Homo sapiens: one gene and its partners. The protein of the gene in region 3 purifies or fractionates together with the protein of the main gene of each other region. This does not show direct contact. Each region holds a gene or a part of one and is shown on either strand. Other genes may lie near its edges. The genes, in order: LYG2, PREP, NSMAF and DUSP14.

The links.
Region 1: the proteins of NSMAF (region 3) and LYG2 purify together in Homo sapiens (affinity purification with mass spectrometry; 2 studies listed by BioGRID and IntAct, with this or other methods). This does not show direct contact.
Region 2: the proteins of NSMAF (region 3) and PREP purify together in Homo sapiens (affinity purification with mass spectrometry; 2 studies listed by BioGRID and IntAct, with this or other methods). This does not show direct contact.
Region 4: the proteins of NSMAF (region 3) and DUSP14 purify together in Homo sapiens (affinity purification with mass spectrometry; 2 studies listed by BioGRID and IntAct, with this or other methods). This does not show direct contact.

What each region holds. Positions count from the first base shown.
Region 1 is NC_000002.12:99,245,662-99,252,689, forward strand, and holds part of LYG2 (lysozyme g-like protein 2 precursor), read right to left. Parts: intron 1,160-7,028; coding exon 1,019-1,159; intron 1-1,018. UniProt on the Homo sapiens protein: May act as a potent antibacterial protein that may play a role in the innate immunity.
Region 2 is NC_000006.12:105,393,062-105,400,089, reverse strand, and holds part of PREP (prolyl endopeptidase), read left to right. Parts: intron 1-2,162; coding exon 2,163-2,237; intron 2,238-7,028. UniProt on the Homo sapiens protein: Cleaves peptide bonds on the C-terminal side of prolyl residues within peptides that are up to approximately 30 amino acids long.
Region 3 is NC_000008.11:58,600,849-58,607,876, reverse strand, and holds part of NSMAF (protein FAN), read left to right. Parts: intron 1-36; coding exon 37-108; intron 109-1,841; coding exon 1,842-1,950; intron 1,951-4,466; coding exon of another isoform or gene 4,467-4,490; coding exon 4,491-4,667; intron 4,668-5,739; coding exon 5,740-5,819; intron 5,820-6,341; coding exon 6,342-6,432; intron 6,433-6,528; coding exon 6,529-6,592; intron 6,593-7,028. UniProt on the Homo sapiens protein: Couples the p55 TNF-receptor (TNF-R55 / TNFR1) to neutral sphingomyelinase (N-SMASE). Specifically binds to the N-smase activation domain of TNF-R55. May regulate ceramide production by N-SMASE.
Region 4 is NC_000017.11:37,506,879-37,513,906, forward strand, and holds the end of DUSP14 (dual specificity protein phosphatase 14), read left to right. Parts: intron 1-3,798; 5' UTR 3,799-3,886; intron 3,887-5,302; 5' UTR 5,303-5,394; coding exon 5,395-5,991; 3' UTR 5,992-6,620; downstream 6,621-7,028. UniProt on the Homo sapiens protein: Involved in the inactivation of MAP kinases. Dephosphorylates ERK, JNK and p38 MAP-kinases. Plays a negative role in TCR signaling by dephosphorylating MAP3K7 adapter TAB1 leading to its inactivation.

The DNA of each region.
Region 1 (7,028 bases), on a different chromosome or scaffold from region 3:
TTCTTCTACTTCAGAAGAAAACCATTTTTAAAAATTTGCTAAGTTAGCCACAGCCTCTGATCACTGCTAATGACTTGGGACAACCATTCTAAGACATCCTTTTGATCTCTGACTGCAGAAACAAACAGATCCACAACCCCCAACAGGTGTCGCTTCTGCTCTGTTTCTCCTTCAAATTGCTCATGCCTGTAATCCCAGCACTTTGGGAGGCCGAGGTGGACAGATCACTTGAGGTCAGGAGCTCAAGACTAGCCTGGCCAACATGGTGAAACCCCATCTCTACTAAAAATACAAAAATTAGCTGGACTTGGTGGCAGGCACCTGTAACCCCAGCTACTCAGGAGACTGAGGCAGGAGAATCGCTTGAACCTGGGAGGTGGAGATTGTAGTGAGCCGAGATCATGCCATCGCACTCCAGCCTGGGTGACAAAGCAAGACTCTGTCATACACACAAAAAAAATTCTGCCACACTAGTGCACTGGGAAGCCTGTTGTACTAGGAGTTAGCCAATGCATGTTTTAGCCTGGCTCCGCCACTAGTTGGTTCTGTTCTATTGGGAAGTATTCCCCTCCTTGCTGAGTCTTTGGGCTCTGATTTGTAAATTTGAGGGGTTGGGGTCTGATGTGACCTTGTGGTTGCTGCCAGCTCCGACACTCTAAAACCAGGATAACGTGATGAAGACGACTTTGGAACAGTATTGCTTCAAATGGTCATGTGTAACATGAAGCAAACACAGCAGCACCACCCAAAAAACAAAGCCAGAGTCTAATATTTATTCAAGCAGTAGTTTCAATACATGGAAATAAACACAGCTGGACAAAGTTTGGAAAGAATGGGGGTGGAAAATGAAAAGAAGCTGGTTGTTAGATTGGTCAGGATTGTGGTTTTTGCTCATTTTTAATTTTGATACTATTGTCATAATGATGATTATACCTTTTCAAAATTAAGTGACTTCCTAAGAAAGAATCTGAAAACGATGAAAGGGGGAAGCCAGTCATTTGCTCTGCTTTTCACTTACCGCAGTTCATCACACTGTTTGCATCACAAGTGGCCCCAGAGGTCTTCATGGTCATGATGTCCCCATAGCAGCCGTGGTACAGGCGTGGATGTAGGTGAGGCTTCATTGAGTGACTGAAGGGGTATGAGCCCCTGGAAGTGCCTAGGAGGCAGAAGTGTAACTCACATGAATCCTCTGAGAAGATATTACTTGGGTTGCTGCAATAAACATCACTAAACCAAAGGCAGAAGGCCACAGACAGAACTCCCCAACTCTCTTGTTGCCATTATTTGTTCCTCAGACAGAAGTTCCCCATGCCCACTCTGCTCCGATCTTTTGTTTTGTTTTGTATTAACACAGGACGTAATCTGAAAACTCTATGCAAAATATTATGAAATTCATCTCTTATAGATCCTAAATACATGTGCAGTCTTTTTTTTTCCTTTTTTTAAGAGACAAGGTCTTGCTCTGTTGTCCAGGCTGGAGTGCAGTGGCATGATCATAGCTCGCTGCAGGCACCAACACCTGGGCTCAAACTATCCTCCCACCCCAGCCTCCTGAGTAGCTGGAACCACAGGTGCATATCACCAGGACTGGCTTATTTTCTCTTTTTGTAGAGATGGGGTTTTGCTATGTTGCCCAAGCTAGTCTCAAACTCCTGTGCTCAAGCGATCCTCTCTCCTTGGCCTCCCAAAGTGCTGGGATTACAGGCACTGTAGTCATACCATGCTCTATGTCAGAATTAAAACTGACAGGTTTTTAAGCAGGAAACTTGAGAGTTTTTTTTTTTTTTTTAAGATTCAGGGGGTACATGTGCAGGTTTGTTACGTGGGCATATTGTGTGATGCTGAGGATTGGCCTTCTATTGATCCTTCACCCAAATAGTGAACACAGTACCTGATGTGTAGTTTTCAACCCTTGCCTCCCTACCTTCCTCCCTCCCTCCTTCCTTTTACAGTCCCCAGTGTCTATTGTTTTGAGAGGAATTTTAAAACATTTCTGACACAAATGCCTCTGGAGATGTGAACATCTAGATTAACAATTTGCCTTTCTTAAGCCAAAATTGACAAATGGGGTCTAATTAAACTAAAGAGCTTCTGCACAGCAAAAGAAACTACCATCAGAGTGAACAGGCAACCTACAAAATGGGAGAAAATTTTCGCAACCTACTCATCTGACAAAGGGCTAATATCCAGAATCTACAATGAACTCAAACAAATTTACAAGAAAAAAACAAACAACCCCATCAAAAAGTGGGCGAAGTACATGAACAGACACTTCTCAAAAGAAGACATTTATGCAGCCAAAAAACACATGAAAAAATGCTCACCATCACTGGCTATCAGAAAAATGCAAATCAAAACCACAATGAGATACCATCTCACACCAGTTAGAATGGCAATCATTAAAAAGTCAGGCAACAACAGGTGCTGGAGAGGATGTGGAGAAATAGGAACACTTTTACACTGTTGGTGGGACTGTAAACTAGTTCAACCATTGTGGAAGTCAGTGTGGCGATTCCTCAGGGATCTAGAACTAGAAATACCATTTGACCCTGCCATCCCATTACTGGGTATATACCCAAAGGACTATAAATCATGCTGCTATAAAGACACATGCACACGTATGTTTATTGCGGCACTATTCACAATAGCAAAAACTTGGAACCAACCCAAATGTCCAACAATGATAGACTGGATTAAGAAAATGTGGCACATATACACCATGGAATACTATGCAGCCATAAAAAATGATGACTTCATGTCCTTTGTAGGGACATGGATGAAATTGGAAATCATCATTCTCAGTAAACTATCACCAAGGACAAAAAACCAAACACCACATGTTCTCACTCATAGGTGGGAATTGAACAATGAGAACACATGGACACAGGAAGGGGAACATCACACTCTGGGGACTGTTGTGGGGTGGAGGGAGGGGGGAGGGATAGCATTAGGAGATATACCTAATGCTAAATGACGAGTTAATGGGTGCAGCACACCAGCATGGCACATGTATACATATGTAACTAACCTGCACATTGTGCACATGTACCCTAAAACTTAAAGTATAATAATAATAAAATAAAATAAAATAAAATAAAAATAAATAAATAAAATTCAAAAAAAACCAATTTGCCTTTGTTTAGAAAGATAAGAAAGAAGGGCACCATAACAATTTAAATATATTCTTATTATATATCATTTACTGTGAAGTTGAGTTCCTATGTATATTTAATAAAATTAGAAGTAAAAATTGAATTTGCCAAAATAATTTAAGTCAAATCTATTCTTGTCTTTTTGTTCTGTCATTAAAAAGTGAATTTCTGTCCAAGTCTACCTGTTACAGGAGAGGCAGAGCTTTTGCTAAAGGAGATACAAAGTTATTTTCTGTAATGTTGAAAAGTTTGTTCTAACGGTTTCAAGGACTGTTAACTTGTACCTTAAGAGTCCAAATATTTGTTATAAGACAGTACTTAGGGCTGGATGTTGTGGCTTATGCCTAGAATCCCAGCACTTTGAGAGGCTGAGGCAGGACGATTGCTTGAGCGTAGGAGTTTGAGACCAGCCTATGCAACATGGCAAAACTCATTTCTACAAAAAATACAAAAATTAGCCTGGTGTAGTGGCACATGCCTGTAGTCCCAGTTGCATGGGAGACTGAGACAGGAAGATTGATTGAACCCGGGAGGTCGAGGCTGCAGTGAGCTTTGATGGTGCCACTGCACTCCAGCCTGGGCAACAGAACAAGACCCTGTCTCAAATCTCAAAAAAAAAAAAAAGGATTTTGTTAAAATGTTTGATGTAAAAAAAATAGAATCTGGTTGGGCGTGGTGGCTCACACCTGTAATCCCAGCACTTTGGGAGGCCAAGGCAGGCGGATCACCTGAGGTCGGGAGTTCAAGACCAGTCTGACCAACACGGAGAAACCCATCTCTACTAAAAATACAAAATTAGCCAGGCATGGTGGTGCATGCCTGTAATCCCAGCTACTCGGGAGGCTGAGGCAGAAGAATCGCTTGAACCCAGGAGGAGGAGGATGCAGTGAGCCGAGATCGCGCCATTGCACTCCAGCCTGGGCAAAAAGAGCGAAACTCTGTCTCAAAAAAAAAAAAAAAAAAAAAAAAGAATCTAACCACTTCTCCCACCTCTGCTTCTGCCATAGTCCCAGCCAGCATCATTGCTCATCTGGACTCTCCTAACAGCCTTCTAACTGACCTCCCTGATTCACTCTTGCAGCCCATCCTCTACTTAGTAGACGGAGTGGCCCTGTGGGAATATGCATGGGCTGCTATCAGTCTTCTCTCTTAACCTTCCAGTGGCTTTCTCCTCCTTTAGGGGAATAGCCAAGTCCATCCTGCAGCCTCCAAGACCTACTAGATGTGGCCCTCTGCTCCTGTTCCTACTTCTCTTTCCCTTTGTTCACTCTCCTCCAGCCACATTCTTCTTTGTGCTTATCCTTCAACATGCCAGGCAGGTTTCTGCCTCAAAGCCTGTATGTTTGTGGTCCCTTTTGCCTAGAATGCTATTCCTCCTGGTATCTACATGATCATGCCTTCAGGTCTCTGTCCAAATATCACCTTATCAGCAGAATATATAGCGAGTTTATAGACAAAAAAAGAAAATAGTCCTTAAACATATAAAAGACGTTAAACCACACTCAAAAGAAGAGAAAGGCCACATTAAAACATCATTATAACAGCATTTTCCAACTCTTTTTTTTTTTTTTTTTTTGAGACAGAGTCTTGCTCTGTCGCCCAGGCTGCAGTACAGTGGTGCGATCATGGCTCACTGCAAGCTCCGCCTCCTGGGTTCATGCCATTCTCCTGCCTCAGCCTCCCCAGCAGCTGGGACTACAGGCGCCTGCCATCACACCCGGCTAATTTTTTGTATTTTTAGTAGAGGCGGGGTTTCAGCATGTTAGCCAGGATGGTCTCGATCTGCTGACCTTGTGATCCGCCCACCTTGGCCTCCCAAAGTGCTGGGATTACAGGCGTGAGCCACCACGCCTGGCTGCATTTTCCAACTCTTTAGTTGGCAAGAGCCCAAAGGTTTGGCAATACCCTCTGTGGGAGAGGTTGTGAGGAAATAGGCTGTCACACACATTGCTGTGGAACACAGTTTTGTGATAGGCTGTTCATTCCAGCACTGTTGATAAGAGCAAAGGACTGCAAACAACACAAATGTCATTAATTTAGGGACTGGTTGAGTAAGTGATGCTACGTCCACAGTGGAGCACTATGCAGCTGCAAAAGGAAAGAATAAGACCTGTATATACTCCTGTAAAATTCTCTCCAGGGACAAAATAGTATTTATAGAATTGTACTCTTTGTGTAAGAAAGGTAAGAAAATACAATCGTATATTTTGTGTGATTTGCTCATATTTTCAAAAGAAACAATACAAGGATGAATGAAAAACTGATAAAAATTGTTAGTTATGGAGAGAGTAAGAGGAAGGTAAAGGGAACAGGGATAGGGGATAGACTAACTATCTTTTTTAAAGTTTTTATTTTGGAACCATGTAAATGTTATCATAAATTTTAAAATTAAATCAAATGGGGAAAAATGGAATCATAAAAAAGAAGAACAAATGAACATAACTCTATAACAAATTGAAAGATTAATAAACACATAGAGGAGAATTATCTTAAGTGACTTTAAAATATATCCATATAAGTCTATACCACTACATAGGAATCCATCCTGTGAACATAAATAATCACAAGAAAATCTTAAATTATATTTACTGTCTCATTGTTGGTTGGTAATACTGTCATACTTATTTTGACACTATTGTATGTAAATAAGTAATAATGCTAATGTCATTAGAACTAGGATTTTTAGTGTAAGATAGCAGAGGTACAAATATAAAACTGATGTAAAATGCTTGCATTCTTAAATATAAATGTGAAATATCTGAATGCATAGTTGTTTTCCTTTTAAAAATATATATTTTCTAGTTCCTGCCACTGAAAACACCTGAAATAAACGACAGCTCCATAGCAATGGAGCACTTTTACTTCCCACACTGTGGTCTCTAAATACCATTTCCTGCTAAGTGGAACCAGCGCTCCTCAGAATAATGGCTGATTGCCTGCCTGGGGCAGGAAATGTTCAAGATGAACCAGGAACATCTTTTTGTGCCAGAGCTGGTCCTTATATGTTAGAGACACATTAAAAAAAAAAATTTTTTTTTCCAGATGGAGTCTCACTCTGTCGCCCAGGCTGGAGTGCAGTGGCCATTCTCCTGCCTCAGCCTCCCAAGTAGCTGGGACTACAGGTGCCTGCCACCACACCTGGCTAATTTTTTGTATTTTTAGTAGAGATGGTGTATCACTGTGTTAGCCAGGATGGTCTCAATCTCCTGACCTCTTGATCCGCCTGCCTCGGCCTCCCAAAGTGCAGGGATTACAGGTGTGAGCCACCGTGCCCAGCCCAAAAATTTTTACAGGTGAAATGTTTTTATCTCACTGCAAGCTCCGCCTCCCAAGTTCATGCCATTCTCCTGCCTCAGCCTCCCAAGTAGCTGGGACTACAGGTGCCTGCCACCACACCTGGCTAATTTTTTGTATTTTTAGTAGAGATGGTGTATCACTGTGTTAGCCAGGATGGTCTCAATCTCCTGACCTCTTGATCCGCCTGCCTCGGCCTCCCAAAGTGCAGGGATTACAGGTGTGAGCCACCGTGCCCAGCCCAAAAATTTTTACAGGTGAAATGTTTTTATCTCCCTCCCTTCCTCTCACTCTTTCCCTCTCTCTTCCCTTTTTCCTCTCACTCTCTTACTGTTCGTTCCTCTCACTAGAAGATAAATTTCATTAGGTCAGATACTAGATGTTTTTCTCTGCTATATCCTCCTCAGCACCTGGAACAATGCTTGGCACAAAGTAGACATTTAATAAACATTTGCTGAATGGAAGAATGGATAGTTGGATGGATGAAGGAATGAGACAGAAAGGGATTGTTTAAATTATCTGGATCAAGTGTCCTTATATTGACAGGTTCAGTATCCTTTCACTGGGAGGCAGTCTTTG
Region 2 (7,028 bases), on a different chromosome or scaffold from region 3:
GGATTAACTCTGGAATTGTCCTGGAGAGAATGTTTCTTGTCCTAGTTAAAAATATCTGATCAATAACTTCCATCTGCTGTAGATGATGGTGCCCGGTCTGGGCAGATAGGGCTGCTTGGTGTAAAATTCTAGATATGCCTGAATTTAGTAACATAATCCAGGAACATTTTTTAAGTGTCTATTCTGGCCCCTCTGATGAGTGTTTGGGGAAAAGGGTGGGCTGACTGCTTTAGTCCCAGGTCTGGTTCTGAACTTGATATGGTTCTGGGCATGTTACCCAGCCTTATCCCTGCTGTTGCTCCTAGAAGTGCATGATTGAAAGATGCTTTACAATTCAAAATTTTCTGATTTCTTAATGCTAGGAAAAGCAGATTGTTATTTTAAGCCTATTTTATAACCACTTCAAGGTGTGTAAAACGTAAAAGACTTGCAGATGAGAAGAAAAGATGAAAAGCTGTTGTTCGGTGGTGACAATCTGCTAAAATTTAGAGAGGTCAGAATTGAAAATTGGTAACTTTATGAAGACCCATCTGGAGAGGCTTTAGTCGGGTTTTATGTTCCTTGCTCTTGTTTTTACGTCCCTTGCTCAGTCAGTTGTTTAATGAAAATATATACAGAGTGTTCTGGCTTACCTGCCCATTTATCCAGTTGTGCATTTCCCCAGGAGTTCTTTGACCTGGCATCAGACAAGGACAGATGTGGAAAGCCCGGTGTTGTAAGGGCCAAGGAGATTGTTCTCACCCAGCCAGAGCCACACTGGAACTAGAGCAGCACTAGGTTTTCTTTAGGAAATAGCCCTTACCTTCTGGCATTGTAGAACAAAGCAAGGAGACAGATTAAAAAATTCATCTGAGATAGAGGTAGTCTTCCCAACAGCTTTATACAAGAAGCCTTAACTAGAATGTTGGAGTGGTTCAGAGACTTGATTGGCAAGACATTGTCAGTGTGGTTTCATTAATGGGGTTAATCTTTTTTTTTTTCTGAGATGAAGTCTTGCTCTGTTGCCCGGGCTGGAGTGCAATAGGCGTTGTCTCAGCTCACTGCAACCTCTGCCTCCTGGGTTCAGGAGACTCCCCTGCCTTAGCCTCCCGAGTAGCTGGGATTACAGCACCTGCCACCATGCCCGGCTAATTTTTAAATTTTGAGTAGAGACAGGATTTCAGCATGTTGGCCAGGCTGGTCTTGAACTCCTGACCTCAAGTGATCCGCCTGCCTCAGTCTCCCAAAGTGCTGGGATTATGGCTGTGAGCCACTGCACTCTGTCCTAATGGGGTTAATCTTGATGGTATCAGGTGGAGAGATTTTGTAATGATTTTTACTGCTGGATAATTTCTTTTGGCATAATCACTTGAGGAGTGGTGAAAACTGTTTCTACTTGCTCCTTCAAACGCCTTCAAGTGGCTTCTAAGGCCAGGCCTTAGAAGCTCCAGAAAGCTTCCTTCAGCCAGGTTCTACTTACACTAAGCAGTTTTATTTCTTCCAATATCATGGTAACCTGAATGGGTGATGCTTTTGCACCTTCTTTTTGTAAACAGTGGAAAAAAGCATTTCATAACAGTAAATAAAAAGGAAGAAAGGCATTAGTTTTAAAATGTTTTGCCATTGCATTTAAGTCAGCTTTTTGAACTTATGTCAATTAGAATCATTATACTACATATTAGTAACTTGCTTTTTGGCAGTTTAGACATAAAAGCAAACCTGGGCTATATTGCAGGGAGATTTTCTAATCATTGGGAAGCTCAGCGGAACAGGAGAATGAGCACGTGTGTGTTAGCCCCCTCCCTGACGTGCCCTTCTTGTGTGCCCACTGTATTGTCCACTGTATTGTGTCATTCTGTGCTTGGCTGCTGACAGCACGTTTTCAAGTTTCTTTAGCACAGTGGCAGGTCTTTGTTTTGTGTTGTAGGGACAGAGCGGTTTCCTGTTCTGACCTTTCATCTTTCTTTCCTCTCTAGCTGAAACATTCTTTTCATGAAGGGTGGCTTGACACCTTTGAGAACCTGCCAACTTTGGTTCATGTGGTAATTTGGGCAGACACGTTGCCAGTGAGCCAATTAGCATTTTTGTCCATCCCTTTCCTATTTCTCCATTACATTAAAAAAATACCAGTTTTAATTGGGGTTAGAGAGTAATTATCTAATACCTCATTTTGTTTTTTACAGGTACAGGATTATCATGGTCATAAAATTTGTGACCCTTACGCCTGGCTTGAAGACCCCGACAGTGAACAGACTAAGGTAATTTGGTTTCTAATTAAAGATAAGGCAGCCTTAGTAGCTAGCACCAAACTCTAAATGTCAGTAACTATAGCTTTTCCTTTCTGGTGTTCTCCTGTGTTTTCTGCCATGGGATGGTGAGTATACCTGTTGTTACCACTACTTTTTGTCAAATAATTTATGGGAAAAAGACAAAAGCATGGCTTAGTCCCAGAGAAGATCACCTAAGTGTTTCAGATAATGTTTATGGTTCATAGTGACACTGATGAGCTATTTTAAATGAAAATATCAGAAAGAAAACTGATTTTTGCCAAAAGAAAAAATGAAAACCTAGATAGAAATGATGTTAAAGGAAAAAATTGCCTAAATATTTTTTTCCAAAGAAAAGGAAATCTTGTATATGAAATGAATATTAGGTCATGAAAACTGAACACTGTCCTTAAATTGCTTATTGATGTCAACACAACAACAGTGAAACAAAAGCTAAGTAGTGAAGGGGCAGGGGGGAGCATTTTCTGCCCTAAAAACATAAAGCTTTCATATTCTTTTGGAGAAACAGTATTTCAAGGATCCTGCTGAAGTCCATTCAGTAATGAAGGTGGCCCTAAGTCCTATGTCCCACAGACATTTTTCCCTTTTTGGAGTGCCTAGGACTTGTCACTTATGTATACTTTTTTTTTTTTTTTTTGTAGACAGAGTCTTACTCTGTCACCCAGGCTGTAGGGCACTGGTGCGATCTTGGCTCACTGCAACCTCCGCCTCCTGGGTTCAAGCAATTCTTGTACCTCAGCCTCCCGAGTAGCTGGGATTACAGGCATGTGCCACCACACCCGGCTAGTTTTTGTATTTTTAGTAGAGACGGGGGTTTCACCATGTTGGCCAGGCTGGTCTCGAACTCCTGGCCTCAAGTGATCCTCCCGCCTCGGCCTCCCAAAGTGTTGGGATTACAAGTGTGCACCATCGCGCCCAGCCCATTTATGTGTACTTTATGTAGTTAATTAAGTTTGCTTGGTTGGGGGAATAGTGTTTCTCAAGTTCATCTTAAGTTCTTGGATTCTTCTATTTATAACCATAGTACATAATACTTAGTACATATTTGCAGTTTCTGATATGTTCAGCATCCCAAAATTTATTCGAGCTTCTTTAGAGTTGCAGGGTACGTTTCCCATTTAAAAAAAAAAAAGGTTAAATGGCACTCTAGGTAGTTTTTCAGGCCAGTCTTCAAACGCCTGTGTCTTAACTCCGCCTGTTTCTTGCAGTCCCTTTCCACCGTATATACCAGTGTTCTCTGGAGACCTGAATTCAGATTTGCCAGGAAAGCATCCCTTCCTGATGTAGAATTGCCCATCTCCCCACTGGGACAAGGAAAGGGATGGAGTGAAGAGCTTAGCCAGAGCATGATGGTATATGGAGAAAAGAGAGAAAGTAGAGGCAGGGGAGTAAACCACATGATCATCTCTTTCTTCTTCCTTTAGTCTCAAGCACTGGCTCACCTGCTTTCTGCTATCCTCACCTGTTCTTTGTGAGTAGTGTCTCTCCTTTGCCCACTGCAAAGCTCTTACAACTTCTTTTTATCCTTTGTCCCTAAAGTAAGCACACTGCTATTTTGAGATTTCCTAATGGTTTTTACTTTTATCTGCAATCCTACATTCTTTCTCTAACTCCCTTCAAGAAAGACAAAGATCTCATGGATGAGAATGGTTGATATTTGGGGTTTAATTTTTCTTTCCAGAAGCACTGGGTTATAGTAGTGGATGGGCAGAAATTCCAAAGTGAGAAACACCTGAGTATCTTTAGGAATGGTGAAGGCTGTAGCTCTGCAGGTAAGTCTGAGGGGACAGAGAACAGGTGTGGGGTTACCTCCCCACTTCATCCCTGCCATAGATTACCTTGATTGTTCAACACTGGGCTGACTGAGACAGAGGGATTGGGTCTGGGAGTGGAGAGTCACATGCACCTGCATAACCTGTACTGGCTAGAAAGCACCAGGGAAAGGATGAAGTTCCTGTGCATCTCTTGGAAAACTGTCTCTAAGGACCTGATGATTTCTTCACCTGAAGTATCGGCTATAACCTGGATTTCTACAGCCTTTGATGGTGATTGAGTGATTTAGCACTGTCAAAATGACCCAGGTTTTATCTGTTAGTGAATGTATACTTTGCTGTTCCTTAGTTGATAATGACAGGTTCGTGGATGACAAGCCACTTATTAGTGGATATCAGGCTTCCAATTAGTGGATGAAACTGCTAATTAATGATCTTATAGTCAGCACTTGATAGAAACTAAGACATTGGAGTATACACTATTTTTGTGGTATACATTTCTTGGATGGTTACCATGTGCCAGGCACTTTACCGGGAGTTCTGCATTCCCTGTTTCATTTAATTCTCAAATTCTGAAATATATCTTTTTATTTCCCCCATTTTACAGATGAAGAAATTGAGGTGCTGAGTGATTAAATATGTTGTCCATGGCTACTCAGCTAGTAAGTGTGTAGTCAAGGGTAACCCAGGTAGACGAGGTGGTTATCAATTACACATTAAAAAATAAGTAAAAGTAAAAAGACTGGGTGTAATACTTTGCAGATGCGAGCTAAAGGAATGTATTCATGTCTGTGCTTGCCATGTGCCTTTGTAGGCCCTCAGGTGTGAACCCTGGGCCAGCCCCCACTCCCATGCTGACCTGTTCTTTTTTAAAATATATATATTTTTTAAATTGTAATAATTCAGAGTACTGTGATCTTACATCCTTCTCTGACTTCATATTCTACCATGGCAATTTTTCATGTTAGAAAGCAATCTTTGCAGCCCAGAATTTTAATAGTGATACTATTTCATCAGGCAGATGCACTATATTATGCCTAATGACTTCTGTTGGAAATGATTGTTTTCAACTTTTCACTATTACAAATAATGTCCCAAATGTCCCAAACAAGCACTTTTCTAGATCTCCACATTTCTGACAATGACATGATTACTTGTTGCAGTAGCCTTGAAATCTCTTCTCCATTCTCAGGTATTTGCTTTTTGTCGTTGCTATCAAATGGGTTCCTTTTTCATTATTGATGGCATATACAAGTGTTACTGACTCTTTTGTTAGAGACAGGGTCTTGCTGTTGCCCAGGCTGGAGTACAGCCATCTTCTGGGCTCCAGCCATCTTCCTGCCTTAGCCTCCCAAGTAGCTGGGACTACAGGCGCACACCACCATGCCTGGCTAAACTAGCTACTGCTACCGATTTTATATTTATTTTGTACCTAGTTCCCTTACTGAACTCACCAAATTTTCAGTTATTTCCCTTAGATTTTTAGATACATAATCATATAACATATAATCAAATTTAGTGATAATTCTATTTTCTCTTCTATCAAACTTTGGTTATTTTATATATTTTGTACCTAGTAATTTTTTTGAACTCACAGATTTGAATAAGTTTTCAGCTATTTCCCTTAGGTTTTCTAGATACATAATCATATCATCTACAATCAATTATTATTTTCTCCTCTACCAAATTTCGGTTCAGGTCTTATTGAATTGGTCAAAGCTCTGCAAAACATGTAAGAATAGTAGTGAGAAAGAACTTTCTAGCCTAGTGTTTAAATTGTTATTTTGAATGATATTTGTCATCTTGTTTAAGCATTGTTATTCCTACTTTTAGTTTTGGATTTTGATTTCTTTTTAATACCAATCAGGGTAATTATATAGCTTCACTAATATATTAATATTAAAATGTCCTTGAATTCCTGTGATAAAATTCCATTTTTAATCTGTTTTTATGTTCCTTACAACTATATTTACAAGAAAAGTTGGTCAATATCTTGTTATCCAATATAATAACCACTAGCCACTTGTAGCTCCTGAGGACCTGAAATGTGGCTAGTCTGAATTGATTACATGTTGTAAGCATAAAATACATGCTGGATTTCAAACACTTAGTTTGAAAAAAAAAAAAGTAAAATACCTTAATATTTTATATGGATTACATAAAACCAGTCAGGACATTAGAAACATCTGTAGCTCTCTTATAAGATCTGAAATAGAGTTTCGATTTAATCTAGTATTTAATACAGGTTGGCCAATCCTGCCACTGCCTAGCATTTAAGGCTATATCCTTTATAAAACAAAATCAGAGAAGACTTGTAATGGAAAATTCTCAAAAACAGAGTTGAAATGATTTGTGTGTAGTGGATTAAATAAAATATATTATTGAAATTAATTTTTTTTTCCTTAATGTGGCTACTAGAAATTTTTAAATTGTATATGTAGCTTGCATAATGTATCTACTGGACAGCGCTGCTCCTCTGTTTCTTTACAAAATATCTCTGTTAACATATTTCATATCAGCGTTAGATTTGCTTCAGAGAATCAACTGAATTGTGTGTTGCCTTGTACAGTCTGAAGCATTTGCTATAAAATAGCAATATGGGCCTTGACAGCTAGAAAAGATTCATCCAGATTCAACTCTCCCTCTACCCCCTGCCCCGCCCCTGTTTTTGAGAATTTTCTGTTACAAGTCTGCTCTGGTTTTGTTTTATAAAGGATATAGCCTTAAACGCCAGGCACTGTCAGAATTAGCCAACCTAAATTAAATACTAGATTAAATCCAAGACCTACTGGTAGCATTTCAGATCTTATAAAAGAGCTACAGATGTTTCTCACTTCTTGAATGGTTTTTATTGGAAATGTAATAAGCAGCTTTTTGTTTTAGAAGCTCTGTAAAGATTCTCCTCTTTACAGCAAGGTATGGCTAATACACCTTTGTGTATATGCTAATAATGTGAATAGAAAATGTTCATGCTGCTTTTCTGCTCTTG
Region 3 (7,028 bases):
ACAATAATGTTTGAGATTGTCTTTCTACTTTTAAAGAAACCTGTGGTCCAGATAACACTCCAAGATGTCCGCCGCATCTACAAAAGGAGGCACGGCCTCATGCCTCTGGTGAGTCCTTGGGAGGCTGTGCTGGGGCATGATTGTCACACTTTCAGTTTAGCCAGCAGTTTATTGACGGTAAACACTTATGGGATGTCTGAAAGTACAAGTACACTGTCCTGTAAGAAAATAGACTCTGATTTTGCTGTTCTTTCTTTTGGAGAAGGTAGAAATTCATAAAGGAATAACTCTTTCATGTAGAGAAGAGGTTCTATTATGAAGTATTTTTGGCTCCAAGAGCAAGAGGGCTAGAGTGCCCTTGAGTTTCTCATTCGTGCATTCTCAGTTTCTGGGCTCAGGCTAGAATGATCTGTGTAAAACCAACCCTGTGCTGTACTTGCCTCCACCATTCATAGCAGCTAGGTCTCAAAGCAAAATCTGGAAGATGTTACAAAATTACTTCTTTAGTGGAACTAGTATATTCACAGTTAACTTACATTAATTCAACCTTTGGGCTGAATGACAAAATAACCATGTAAAATCATATAGGCAGTTCCTTCCACCATTCCCTGAATAAGTGTATTTCTATACTTAGGTCCTATTTCCGACACATGTCTTACTTTAGTAACCAATCCCTACAGAAGGTATGATTCCAAGTGTTTTAATTCGACACCAATAGAAATTCATTTTTTCTCCTTTGAAGATTAACCAGTAACTTGGTGACATTACAAAAGCATTGTGGAATTTTAATTCTTATTTTTGTGCTTTTAATTTGTGAAATTCTACTGTTTTGCTTCCTATTTTACTTAAAAGGCCATTCCTCCATTTCCAGCACTAATAGCAGATCAGGGAAACAGATACTATTAAAAATCTCCTCTTTTGGGTATAGAGCTGCAGTCAGAAAAAGAGAAGAAATTAACATTGATTAAGTGCTTTCTATGTAACAGGCAATTTATATATAATGTTTCATTTATTCGCCATTATAAGCCTTGTGAAGTAGATAGTATTGTATTTTACAGGTGAAGAAATTGAGACTCCGGGGGTTAACTTCCTAAGCTCCCAGCTAGTACATGGTGAAAGCCTGTATTTGAACCAAGGGTAGCTCTGGGCTTTCATCCTGGCTTTGTCTGTTCCTTTGCTAGCTCAGCCTTACTAACACTATGGTCACAAAGCTCATAGGTTTTTATAAGATAATAATAATGTATTAATTGAATGGGTTATTCAATTATCAATTTGTTAGGTGTGCATAATTTTTATTTATTAGCTGGGCATGGTGCGCCTGTAGCCTTAGCTACTCGAGAGGCTGAGGTGGGAGGATCAATTGAGCCTGGGAGTTTGAGGCTGCAGTGAGCGGTGATCACACCATTGCACTCTAGCCTGGGCAACAGAGCAGGACCTGGTCTCAAAATATATATATGTTATTTAACTTATGAAAGAAAGCTAGACATTTATGTTTGAAGAAGAGATGTGAAGACATGGATCAGCTATTTTTGAATTTCAAAATAACAAGTTCACAAAAGCTATTATTAATGAAAATATTCAACACTCAAGGTGATTTACAAAGTTTAGCTGAGATACTATCTTGTTCTCAAAACATTTATAAATACAACATATATATATATACGCAAACGTATATGTGTATATATATCACTGAGTTAAATTTATAGATTGAAAATAGGAATATAAGTTATAAAAATAAACACAAATGTTTAACTGAATGTTTTTGTAATTATATACTTATATTGGGATTGCAAGATGAATACAATGCTATTTATTTTATTATTTTCTTTTTGAATTTATAGGGCTTGGAAGTATTTTGCACAGAAGATGATCTGTGTTCCGACATCTACCTAAAGTTCTATGAACCTCAAGATAGAGATGATCTCTATTTTTACATTGCCACATACCTAGGTTTGGCGCTCACCCTTCATTGTTTCTTTCTTTTTTTTTTTTTTTTGGAGGCTGAGTCTCGCTCTGTCACCCAGGCTGGAGTGCAGTGGCGTGATCTCGGCTCACTGCAACCTCCGCCTCCTGGGTTCAAGTGATTCTTGTGCCTCAGCCTCCCGAGTAGCTGGGACTACAGGTGCCCGCTACCACGCCAGGCTAATTTTTTTTGTATTTTTAGTAGAGACAGGGTTTCTTTTCATATGAAGGTAGTTCAACTCCTAAGGATCTGGGATAGGAAATAAGAGAAGAAAAATGCTATTTGTAGAATCGCCTCTTTGTGGGTCTAATTTCTTCTCATCAGTAACTATAATTGCCAAAATAATATTTTTAAAATTCTGGGAAATATAAATTCACTTTGATAATAGTTCATTCTGAATGTATGTTTTAAAAACTCTAGATAAATATATTTAAATGCTCTTATATTTTAACGTCCTCCAAATTGAATGGATTTTGAAGAATCCACTCAAATATTTTTATGTTCAGTCAGGTCTTATATTAGTTTATGAGAACCAAGACTCAGTTTTGTACTGCGAGGCAGTGAGTTATTCATATGTTTGTGATCATTGATTGTGGTCAGAACCACAAAGCTGAAAGACTGCAAAAGGAACATGTGAACCTTCTATGCTCAATATACTGACTTTGGAGTGGAATTTGCTTTTAATTAATGATATTTCCTCAGTTTTCCATGGAAAATGTGAATTTTCCCACCTTTGCCAGAGAAAATACTTATATTATGATGTTCAAGCCCAAAGTTTTTTTATTACATTGCAAGGCTAAATTAAATTATTCTAGTTTACAAAGTTGCTAGATAACTGGAAAGGAATTATCTTTAAAAATGGATTTTGGGGCTAGGCATGGTGGCTCATGACTGTAATCCCAGCACTTTCGGAGGCCGAGGAGGGAGAATCTCTTGAGCCCAGGAGTTCGAGACCAGCCTGGGCAACATGGCTTGACCTCATCTCTACAAAAACAATTAAAAATTAGCTGGGACTGGTGGCGTGTGCCTGTAGTCCCAGCTACTCGAGAGGCTGAAGTGGGAGGATCGCTTGAGCCTGGGAGGTCAAGGCTGCAGTGGGCAGTGATCACACCACTGCAATTCAGCCTGGGTGACAGAGTGAGACCCTGTCTCAAAAAAACAAACAAACAAAAAAGGATATTGGGATTTTATTAATATCATCTTAATGTGTTTGTTATTTTAGTGTACCACAAAACTATTTGTGAAATTTGTAGTAAAGTACATCTTCCCTTAGAAATGAAATTTTACTTCAAGGAGGAATACTTGGCTTTCAGTAGGGAACATATTTTATTTTAAAGTAGGTTTATATATATATATTATATATATCTATGTAGTTATATATAGTTTATATATAGTTATATATAGCTAGTATTTTATTCATACATTAAGCTATTGAAGGTAACTTTATGTATAAGTATAGCTTTGTTACAAGTTTACTTTAATTTCCTGTCTCATGATCTAGGTTTTTAAATTTTATTTTTTTTAACTATAACAAGATTACAATAAAAAGATCAACTTTCATGGTGAGTCCTAAAATCTCAAGCCAAAAACTTTGCCATGATCTAAAATATCCATTTTCTAAGAAACTGTCAGTTCTCACTGAGTTTATTCCTAAGATTGTTCATACTTTTTCTGAGGGGTTTCAAAAGTAGAAAACGAGGGGGAAGTGTGTTTTGATTTTTGAAGCCCTTTCCTAGTAGCTGATTAAAGAAGAAACTTGGTAAAAGTAGATGAGAATAAATATTAAGAGTTAAGATGCTTAATGCATCAGGAAAGGTTGAAAGCAGAATTTTCTGAACAAAATGGAAAATCCACTTGTAGGACAGTTAATTCATTTTACACTCTGAAAGGGAAGTTCTCATTGCTGCATTTATCTAAGATCTCATTTTTCCTGAGGTATTTCAGGGGGCAGGTCTGGTTCTTTTAGTTTGAGAATTGGTCCTCCTGCCAAACGCCTGTTTTCTTCTTTAACAATTTCTTTTCTTTTCCTTAGTCTTCACATGCATAAATAATATGTAGTCATTGACAAATTAGCAGTAGTACATCTCTTCCAAGCCTAAAAGAAAACTAAAAGATTGCTTTAATTTCATAAATAATAAAAGAAATAAGCTTTCCCAGATGGCCATGGGTTTTTAAATGCATGGAGACAGCACATTTGGAGGGATTCTTTGTTACTGTATAAATATTACCTATTAACATGTAATATTTATATATTTGCGCTACACTTTTGTATTTGTTTAGGTTATGTCATATTGTGGAGGGTAGTGTAATAGCTCAGTGTATTTAATAATTTCCCCTCCTTGATCTTGGAACTGTTTATACATAGCTGAACAAATACTTTATGAAAACAAGTCAGCAGCCTACTTTTCTTTTTCTTACAATGCATTTTTCAAGAATGCACAGGGATGGTCTACACGTTAAGCCCCTAGCTTTTGCATACTAAGTTTGCGAAGTTAAGTGGCAGACCTCGTGGGTCCTCTTCCCCCAGAGCACCATGTGGCGGAGCACACTGCTGAGAGCTACATGCTGCAGTGGCAGCGTGGACACCTTTCCAACTATCAGTACCTCCTTCACCTCAACAACCTGGCCGACCGCAGCTGCAACGACCTCTCCCAGTACCCTGTGTTTCCATGGATAATACATGATTATTCCAGCTCAGAACTAGGTAACTGCCACACGTGGAATTCTGACCAAGTTGAGTGGGGAGTAGTCATCTGTATTGTTTTTAAAGGACAGAATAAATTCTATTTTATAATTGTGATGTGACATGTGAACAAATTACAACTCATTTCAGTTGTATTGCTAAGGACTGCCAATTTCCATTCCAGGATACTATATAAGTGTTACGTAAGTGTTTCATGTATGTTTTTTCCACCATACTTCTTGAAGGACACACACAGAAAAAATGGGCATGATTTTAACCCAGGGTTATCATTATTACCTATAAGTACCACGTTTTGAAATATTTGCTTCTCACTTTGAAAATTTCACTCACCTTATATTATTTTTAAAAATCACATTAAAAACTGTGATTATTTGTTATAGAACACTTGGAAAGTCCTGAAATAATCAAAGAAGAAAATTAAAATCATCCATAATTATATTACAGAGATAACCACTTTACCTTTGGGGTATATCTACTCTTCTCTTGCTACCACAGATTATTTTAAGAAAAATGTAATTGTATTGTAACTTTATTTTGTAATATTTAAAAATTATATATTGTGAACAGTTAGTTCCTCTTGACACATTATCTTGAACCTTTGTCCTTGAAAGAGATAATAGATTTTCTAGAAATATGATAAAGTATTTCTCTGAAAATATTTAGCTCACTAGTTCTCAAATAGGCTAATATTGAAGAATAATAATATTCACTAGAATTCGAATGTAGAAAGTAAATCTTGGTAGAAGAATAATGGCTTTTAAAATTTTGTTGTTGTTGTTGTTTTACTTGGAATATATATATGTTCCTTAATCAGAAACTTTTTTAAAAAAATTAATGTTCAGGGCATTGTCAAATTAGAGATATTGCTCTTAAGTGGTTGTGTCTAACTTAAAACTCAAAATTGCTAACCTTTTCTTTACATCTACATAAATAACTAACAAAAATAACTCTCATGGATTGCTCTCAATTTTTAAAAAAACTTTTGTGGAAGTAAATGTGTATATTTGAATTAATTCAGGAGGTTAATGGTACTAAGTATAAGCTGAAGTTATTTATTGATTTATGTTTATAGATTTGTCAAATCCAGGAACCTTCCGGGATCTCAGTAAGCCAGTAGGGGCCCTAAATAAGGAACGGCTGGAGAGACTACTGGTATGTGGACTTAGAGATTCTTGGTTTCTAAGCAACACGAGAAGCCATGGCCTGTGTTTTTATGGAAGGAAATTCGTTTCTCCAAGGCTTAGGGGAATTATACCAGTGACTCTACGTAGAGTTTTTTCTTACTTTTCTCCTGACCGTGAATTAGCTGCTCACCATTTGCATTTCTTGTCTGCAGTTTAGGAAGGAGGAGGGCAACCTGTTTACAGGTTCACTGAATTATTTTCATGAAGGCATTCTGTGGTAAATCGCATAAGAGACACATAAAATCAGTTCTATTTAATCTAGTGCCAACATTTTGTTACCATTAAGCCAGGGAAACCAAAATACTTGTCTCAGGAATGCTGTTTAGCCACAGATTTTCTTTCCCTCTTATCTTCTCCTTTTCTTATCTAACAGAGAAATTAAGGAATATGGTATATCTATGTTATGATTTCTTTTAGGCTTTTTCTACTTGTCAGTTATTATTTCATAGCCAACACTTAGCTCTATTTTTTTTTTTTTTCTGTATTCTAGACACGCTACCAGGAAATGCCTGAACCAAAGTTCATGTATGGGAGTCACTACTCTTCCCCGGGTTATGTACTTTTTTATCTTGTTAGGATTGGTAAGATTCTTTATCATTACCCCCAATTAAATTTTATTTCACTGTATTCTTCAATGATTCTGTGACCTGACTTACCTCTGACTTTTTCCCCTCTAGCACCAGAGTATATGCTGTGCCTGCAGAATGGAAGATTTGATAATGCAGATAGAATGTTCAACAGGTTTGATACAAATGCCTTGCTTATCATTTTTAACACTTTCTGATTGTATATATACAACATACTTGTTTCAAAGCACTGGATATAATAAAAAAGTAAAGAAATGTAAAAAATCACTAATTGTTCTATCTATTCCTCTCAGGCTTTTTCTAGACATGTATATGTGTGTGTAAATGTGAGAACATATTTTATGTACAGCTTTTTGTCCTACCTTTTGTAGCCTAATATTAAATCTTAAAGTTTTTCCCATATTATTAGATATTCTTCAAAACAATGATTCTTTTTTAAAATTATTGTATCACATTCTAACATATGCCATATTTTATGTCAACTTCTTTTCTCCATTGTTGGGCATTTAGATTGTTTCCCACACTTTATTATTCTTGATAATTTTGCTGTGAATTGAATACAGCTCCCTGTGTGTATTTAGATGGCTTTA
Region 4 (7,028 bases), on a different chromosome or scaffold from region 3:
TCTGGGCTTAGCCTTTCTGTAAGTAGCACTGAAACACCTTCTTAGGCAGATCCACACCCCCCCGCGTGTGTGGCAGACGCTGGCTGGTGGTGTGGAGCGCCGCGAGGCAGGTGATGAGAACACAGCCACGATTTAGTCACCGCAGAGAAGCAGTGTGTGGACTTGAGCTAGAAATCCGGACACCTTCCATCTTTTCCTAGTTTCACTTCTCAAGTTGAAATCTCTCACCCTTTCTGAACCATGTATTTTCCAATCTGTCAAGGGGGTCAGGAGTGTTTGTCAGAGAAGCATCTATAGCATCTGTGCCCTCTACGTGCCCTCTGGCGGAAGTTGTTTTCCTGAAACTTTGGACCAGCTTTGGCATTTTAAGCAGGTTTGTTGGCAAAGAGATGGACTGGCAGCAGCAGGGAGGGAGCAATGTGTCTGTCTCACTTGGATTCTGCCCCGAGGGCTCACAATCTGTTTTCCCTGCAGCACCAAGTACCCTAGCGCCACTCAGCAAATGCGAGTTAACGGAATCAGCCCGGCTTCTACAGGGAACCTGGGCTCCTTTGCCTCAGGAAGGCAAGTGGCTTCCCAGACAGCGTAATTTGGGAGGATGCATCGCTCTGCCACCCAGGCTGGAGTGCAATGGCGCGATCTCAGCTCACTGCAGCCTCTTCCTCCCGGGTTCAAGCGATTCTCTTGGCTCAGCCTCCCTACTAGCTGGGATTATAGGCATGCACCACTGCACCTGGCTAATTTTTGTATTTTTAGTAGAGACGGGGTTTCACCATGTTGCCCAGGCTGGTCTCAGGTGATCTGCCCGCCTCGGCCTCCCAAAGTGCTGGGATTATAGGCGTAAGCCACCGTGTCTATGGCCAAGCCTCTCTGAATTAGACAACAACTAGATAACCTACTTGGAAATTTGATTAGCATCTTCCAGATTTTCCACAATGAGGAGCGTCATCCCCAGCAGCTTGAAGGCCTAATTTTGTGTTTATTACCACAGTGACTTTGCTTTTTAAACCAGTAGGATTCTGCCAGGGAAGACTTGGAAGTGGCAGGAGACCCTGCTCTGCTGTAGGAAAGGATGTTCTCAGAGTTTCTGCCCTGTTCATAGTTTACATCCAATGCACACACACGCAGTTTCCTTATGTGACTGCGTCCTTGTTCCTCCTCATGCTGTGATTTCACCTGTGGACTGCTCTGTGTACTCCCATAGCATTAACCAGTCATGGGATGTGGGCTCCCAAAGCGAGGCCTAGCCTCGAGTGAGGAGGCAGCTCCCTTCAGAGAAGGGCAGTGTCCAGGAGGGACTTGTGGTCTGTTAGCACCAGTACACCTGGTGCCTCAGTCTTCCAGGGGGAATGCAGACAGAGCCACAGCACTCACCTCTGCAGCAGTTCTCAGACGTGCCCCCGACCCGCAGCCTCACCTCAGAAAGGCAACTCTTCCAGCCCCACTCTGGAGGGACGGAATCAGAAGCTGGGGAAAGGTCCAGCAGTCTGTGCGCACAGCCCTCTGGGGGATTCTGAGGCATGCTCAGGTTTGAGAGCCCCTGCATTATAATGATAGAAATAGTTGTAAATGGAGCCAGGCACAGTGGCTCATGCCTGTAATCCCAGCACCTTGGGAGGCCAAGGTGGGTGGATCACTTGAGGTCAGGAGTTTGAGACCAGCCTGGCCAATGTGGCAAAACTCCGTCTCTACTTAAAGTACAAAAAATAGCAACGTGTGGTGGTGCACGCCTGTAATCCCAGCTACTCAGGAGGCTGAGGCAGGAGAATCTCTTGAACCTGGGAGGTGGAGGTTGCAGTGAGCTGAGATTGCGCCACTGCACTCCAGCCTGGGTGACAGAGCCAGACTCCATCTCAATATATATATATATATATGTATGTATAAATAAATATATATGTATATTTATAAACTTTTTTTTTCAAAAACCATTTTAAAATGTTAAACATACGTGTCATAGGACCCAGCCCTTCACTCCTGGGTATTGAACTGAGAGAGGAAGGCATATGTACGCACAAAGACCTGTACGTGGATGCTCATAGCAGCTGTACTCACAATACCTTTAAACTAGAGACAACCCAGGTTCATCAGTAGGTGAATGGATAAACAGAGTGTGGTGTATCTACACAGCAGAGTACTTAAGAAGTGAGCTGTTGATAACCCAGCGTCATGGGTGAATGTCTAAGTTATGCAGAGTGAAAGAAGCCAGACCAAAAAAAAAAAAAACCCATATATATATATATATATATATATACACACACACACACACACACACACACACACACACACACACTCTATATATATATGTACTATGTATATGTGTACTATATATGTATATATACACTATATATACACACTATATACACACTATATATATATATATATATATATATATATATATATATATATATATATATATATAGTGTGTGTGTGTGTGTGTGTGTGTGTGTTTAGTTTTTGAGACAGAGTCTTGCTCTGTTGCCCAGGCTGGAGTGCAGTGGTGCAATTTCGGCTCCACTGCAACCTCCACCTCCTCCTGGGTTCTAGTGATTCTCCTGCCTCAGCCACCCAAGTAGCTGGGATTACAGGTGTGTGCCATCATGCCCGGATAATTTTGGTATTTTTAGTAGAGACCTGGGTTTCTCCACATTGGCAAGGCTGGTCTCGAACTCCTGGCCTCAAGTGATCCACCCGCCTCGGCCTCCCAAAGTGTTGGGATTACAGGCGTGATCCACCACGCTTGGCCTATATATATTTATATGCTATAAATATATAAAAGTCCATTGATAGAAAAGTCTAGAGTGCAAACCATAGTGATAAGAAAGATCAGTGGTTGCCTGGGAATGGGGTAAAGAGCAAGAAAGGGTTGGATTATTAAAAAAAATGAGGAAATTTTGAGGGGGATGATGGATGTGTTTATTATTATGATGTACTGGTGTCTCCATTGTGTACATATGTCAGAACTCATCAGGTAATGTACCTGATCAAGTTGTATAGCAGTTTATATGTCAAGAACACCTCAACAGAGCTGTAAAAAAAACACGACAGGTCTGACAGTTACCTGGGAAAGGTGGGGGAACAGGTGGTAGAAGAACACATTTTTTATGATGTTCATGGTACTTACATAACATAAATGAATAAAATAGGGCCAACATGGAAAAGAAAACAAAATGAAGGAAAATGTCAAATTGCCATCCTGAACACCAGCACCGCCTGTAATTAGCGTTCCTGGCTGCAGCCACATCTGCGGTCCTGCTCCTCATGAAGCCGTCCTCCGTGCCATGTCCCGGCCATGCCTGTCCTTAGCTTCCTGGTGCACACTGTCCTCCACCTTGTGTTCAGGCACAGGGCTGCTTGGCTCACCCTTGCTGCACCTGGCCTGTCCGTCCTCCCACCGCGGTGCCGCCCAGGCCTTCCCACTGCAGGGCTGGCTAACGGTGCATGGAAGAGACTCGAGTCCGTGTTGTGTCCTCATAGCCCACCGAGGAGGCAGCAGTGCCGGACATTTCGCGGATAGGTTGTGGTCTCTGAGTCTCCTCCTCTCAAGAGGATGAGATTTGTCTGTGTTATTGTCAAAACTCTTATTTGTCACGCCGCGGGTTATGTGTCAGTAACAAAAAGCTGAGATTTAGGCCGGTGTTTCTTACTGGTGCAGCCTTTAAATGCACACCTGCGAATGTTCAGTGCACCTTCCGCTTCCTGGCTCTATTTCAGTCAAACCTGAGGTCGTAGTGAAAGTCGGTGAGGAATTCTTTGGAACTTCCTGATTGGCTGTGTCCTTGCCTCCTTGTCTTCCCGCAGATTTGATTTGTATCCACTGTCACCAGCACTGCTCACTTAGGACTTTCTGGATCCGGACCCAGGCAGCGCACACTGGACTCTTGAGGAAGTGAGTACCCCACCACTGCCTGCCTGTTGAACCCGGGGAGGCTCTTGTCTGACTGAAATCACTGCAGGCTTCCCGACGATCCCCTGGGTGTGTGTGGGCAGGCGCACTTGCCACTGGGCACAGGTGATAAAGCATTGTGATTTTTTTTTTTGGTGAGAGGAACGGATGTATCTAAGATCTCAGGAAACTGAGAACTTCCTTTTCTGCTCTTATTAAATGTCAATATATATATAATATATATCAATATATATGTAAATGTATATATTGACATTTAATAGCAAACACTGGAATAATGAGAGGATAGTGACGTTCAGACGTTAAAAGCCAGTGGGCTTCATCGTGGAGCTCAGAATTAAGGTGAAGTTATTTAGCCACACCCAAGGTCAGGTCAGGTAAAATGCTCATTTAACTTACAGGAATGAACTTTGAAGACCATGGCCTTCAAATTGCCTGGGATTATTTCCATGGAAATGCTACTGTGTTTACATTGTCACGAAATGATAGGAAATAGTTTTTGGTTTGGGTTTTTGTTTTTGTTTTGAGACAGAGTCTGTCACCCAGGCTGGAGTATAGTGGCACGATCTCAGCTAGTTGCAACCTCCGCCTCCCAGGTTCAAGCGTGTCTCTTGCCTCAGCCTCCCGAGTAGCTGGGATTACAGGTGCTCGCCACCATGCTCAGCTAATTTTTGTATTTTTAGTAGAGACAGGGTTTCCCAATGTTGGCCAGGCTGGTCTCGAACTCCTGACCTCAGGTGATCCACCCGCCTCAGCCTCCCAAAGTACTGGGATTACAGGCATGAGCTACCTCACCTGGCCTTTCCTTTTTTTTTTTTTTTTTTAGAAGCTGGGTCTCCCTGTTGCCCAGGTTGCAGTGTGGTGGTGGTGCAATCACAGCTCACTGCAGCCTCGACCTCCCAGGCTCAAGTGATCTGCCCACCTCAGTCTCCTGAGTAGCTGGGACTACAGGCATGCACTACCACACCCAGCTAATTAAAAAAAAATAAAAAATAAAAAATAAAAAGTTTTTTTGTAGAGATGGGGTCTCACTGTGTTGCCCAGGCTGGTCTTCTGGTCTTGAACTCCTGGGCTTAAGCAATCCTCCCACCTCAGCCTCCCAAAGTGCTGGGATTACATGTATGAGCCACCATGCCCAGCCACCCCCCCCCCACCCCACTTTTTTTTTTTTTTTTTTGGACAATCACCAGAGAGCTGAATTTTACATTGATTTCACATGTTTGTGTCTTAGGTGACTTTTCCCAACTGTTAATTGATAGAAAATGATTTGTCTGTATCCTTGAAAGATTGTACTGTATTATTTAAAAAAAAACCCTCTAATCTTCCCATTTGACAAATGTGACAGAAGGCTGTGATGAATCAGTAGCATTTAAAGTACTGACACATACCTGTATTTTGCAGGAAGGAGACTCTAATTTTGGATTCCTTGGTGGAGGAAAATAAAACACTCTGGTCTTGCCGCCAACGATGCAAGTGTGACTGCTGGCGTCTTCATGAGCTCCAGAGGTCACAGCACGCTACCAAGGACTCTCATGGCCCCTCGGATGATTTCCGAGGGAGACATAGGAGGCATTGCTCAAATCACCTCCTCTCTATTCCTGGGCAGAGGCAGTGTGGCCTCCAATCGGCACCTCCTCCAGGCTCGTGGCATCACCTGCATTGTTAATGCTACCATTGAGATCCCTAATTTCAACTGGCCCCAATTTGAGTATGTTAAAGTGCCTCTGGCTGACATGCCGCATGCCCCCATTGGACTGTACTTTGACACCGTGGCTGACAAGATCCACAGTGTGAGCAGGAAGCACGGGGCCACCTTGGTGCACTGTGCTGCAGGGGTGAGCCGCTCAGCCACGCTGTGTATCGCGTACCTGATGAAATTCCACAACGTGTGCCTGCTGGAGGCGTACAACTGGGTGAAAGCCCGGCGACCTGTCATCAGGCCCAACGTAGGCTTCTGGAGGCAACTGATAGACTACGAGCGCCAGCTCTTTGGGAAGTCGACAGTTAAAATGGTACAGACACCTTATGGCATAGTTCCCGACGTCTATGAGAAGGAGTCCCGACACCTGATGCCTTACTGGGGGATTTAGTGCCACTGAAGCCTGCGTCAGCAGCCCGAGCGGGGCCGGCATCTGCTCCCCGCCGTCTGCTCCCTCTCCACTCTCTTCTCAAATGGCTGACTTCTGGTTCTCCCTCAAGTGTTTTTTACACTGGGTGTTCAAATTTATTTTAAGAGATAGGGAGGGAGGGGACATAAAGGGAATGCATACATTGCTAGTCACATTTTTAAAATTAACATTTTGGAATAGTGTTTATGGAAATCTTTAGCTTTTAATCATTTTTACCAATTTGAACAGTTTAATAAACTGGTTCTGCTCTCTTCTGAATCTCATGCCTTTGGCACCTTGGTAGGTGCAGGAGGAGCTCAGTGCAAAAATCACTTTGGGGCCTCATTAACCCTTTAGAGACAAGCTTTGCCCCAGGCTGCGGACCAGACAGATGCTTAGGGAAGGTTGATAACCAGCTTCAGTCTCTACTGGATTAGCCCTACTCTTTCCTTTCCCCTCCATTATTTAGTGACTCTGTAAGTAAGTTAAATACACCCTTATTATTTAGCTGTTAAGTAACTATAATGAAATCTGCTGCAAAATCTCTCTTGGAATCCATGTGCCCAGGATTATATTAGCATTATTTTTAATAAATCTATATGCTTAACATATTAGAATTTTTACTAATAATTTCAAGGTGTGTGTGTGTCGATGATGGGAAAAAGGTGCTCTCCAGTAACTAACTAACTAACTGCTGAAATGTGGCTCCTGTGCCAGTTGGGAACATTACTTAAAATACACATCCCAGCAGAGTCTTGTCGGCGCGTCACATCCTGGTGGACAGGCAGACACACCGTCCCCGGTGCTGGGCCGGTGGGAGATGATTGATAGTGCACGCTCTGATCAGGGGTGCTGGTTTTGGTTTCCTCTTGGTTAGTGGAGCGCCCCGAAGCAGCGTGTCCTCCATCAGAGAAACTGGTTTTCAATAAAAGGTGCCTCTGCTTGACTATTATTACCACATACGAAAATGCCCTAAACCAAACCTCAGTATGAGCGATAAGCAAGTAACAAAAACAAAC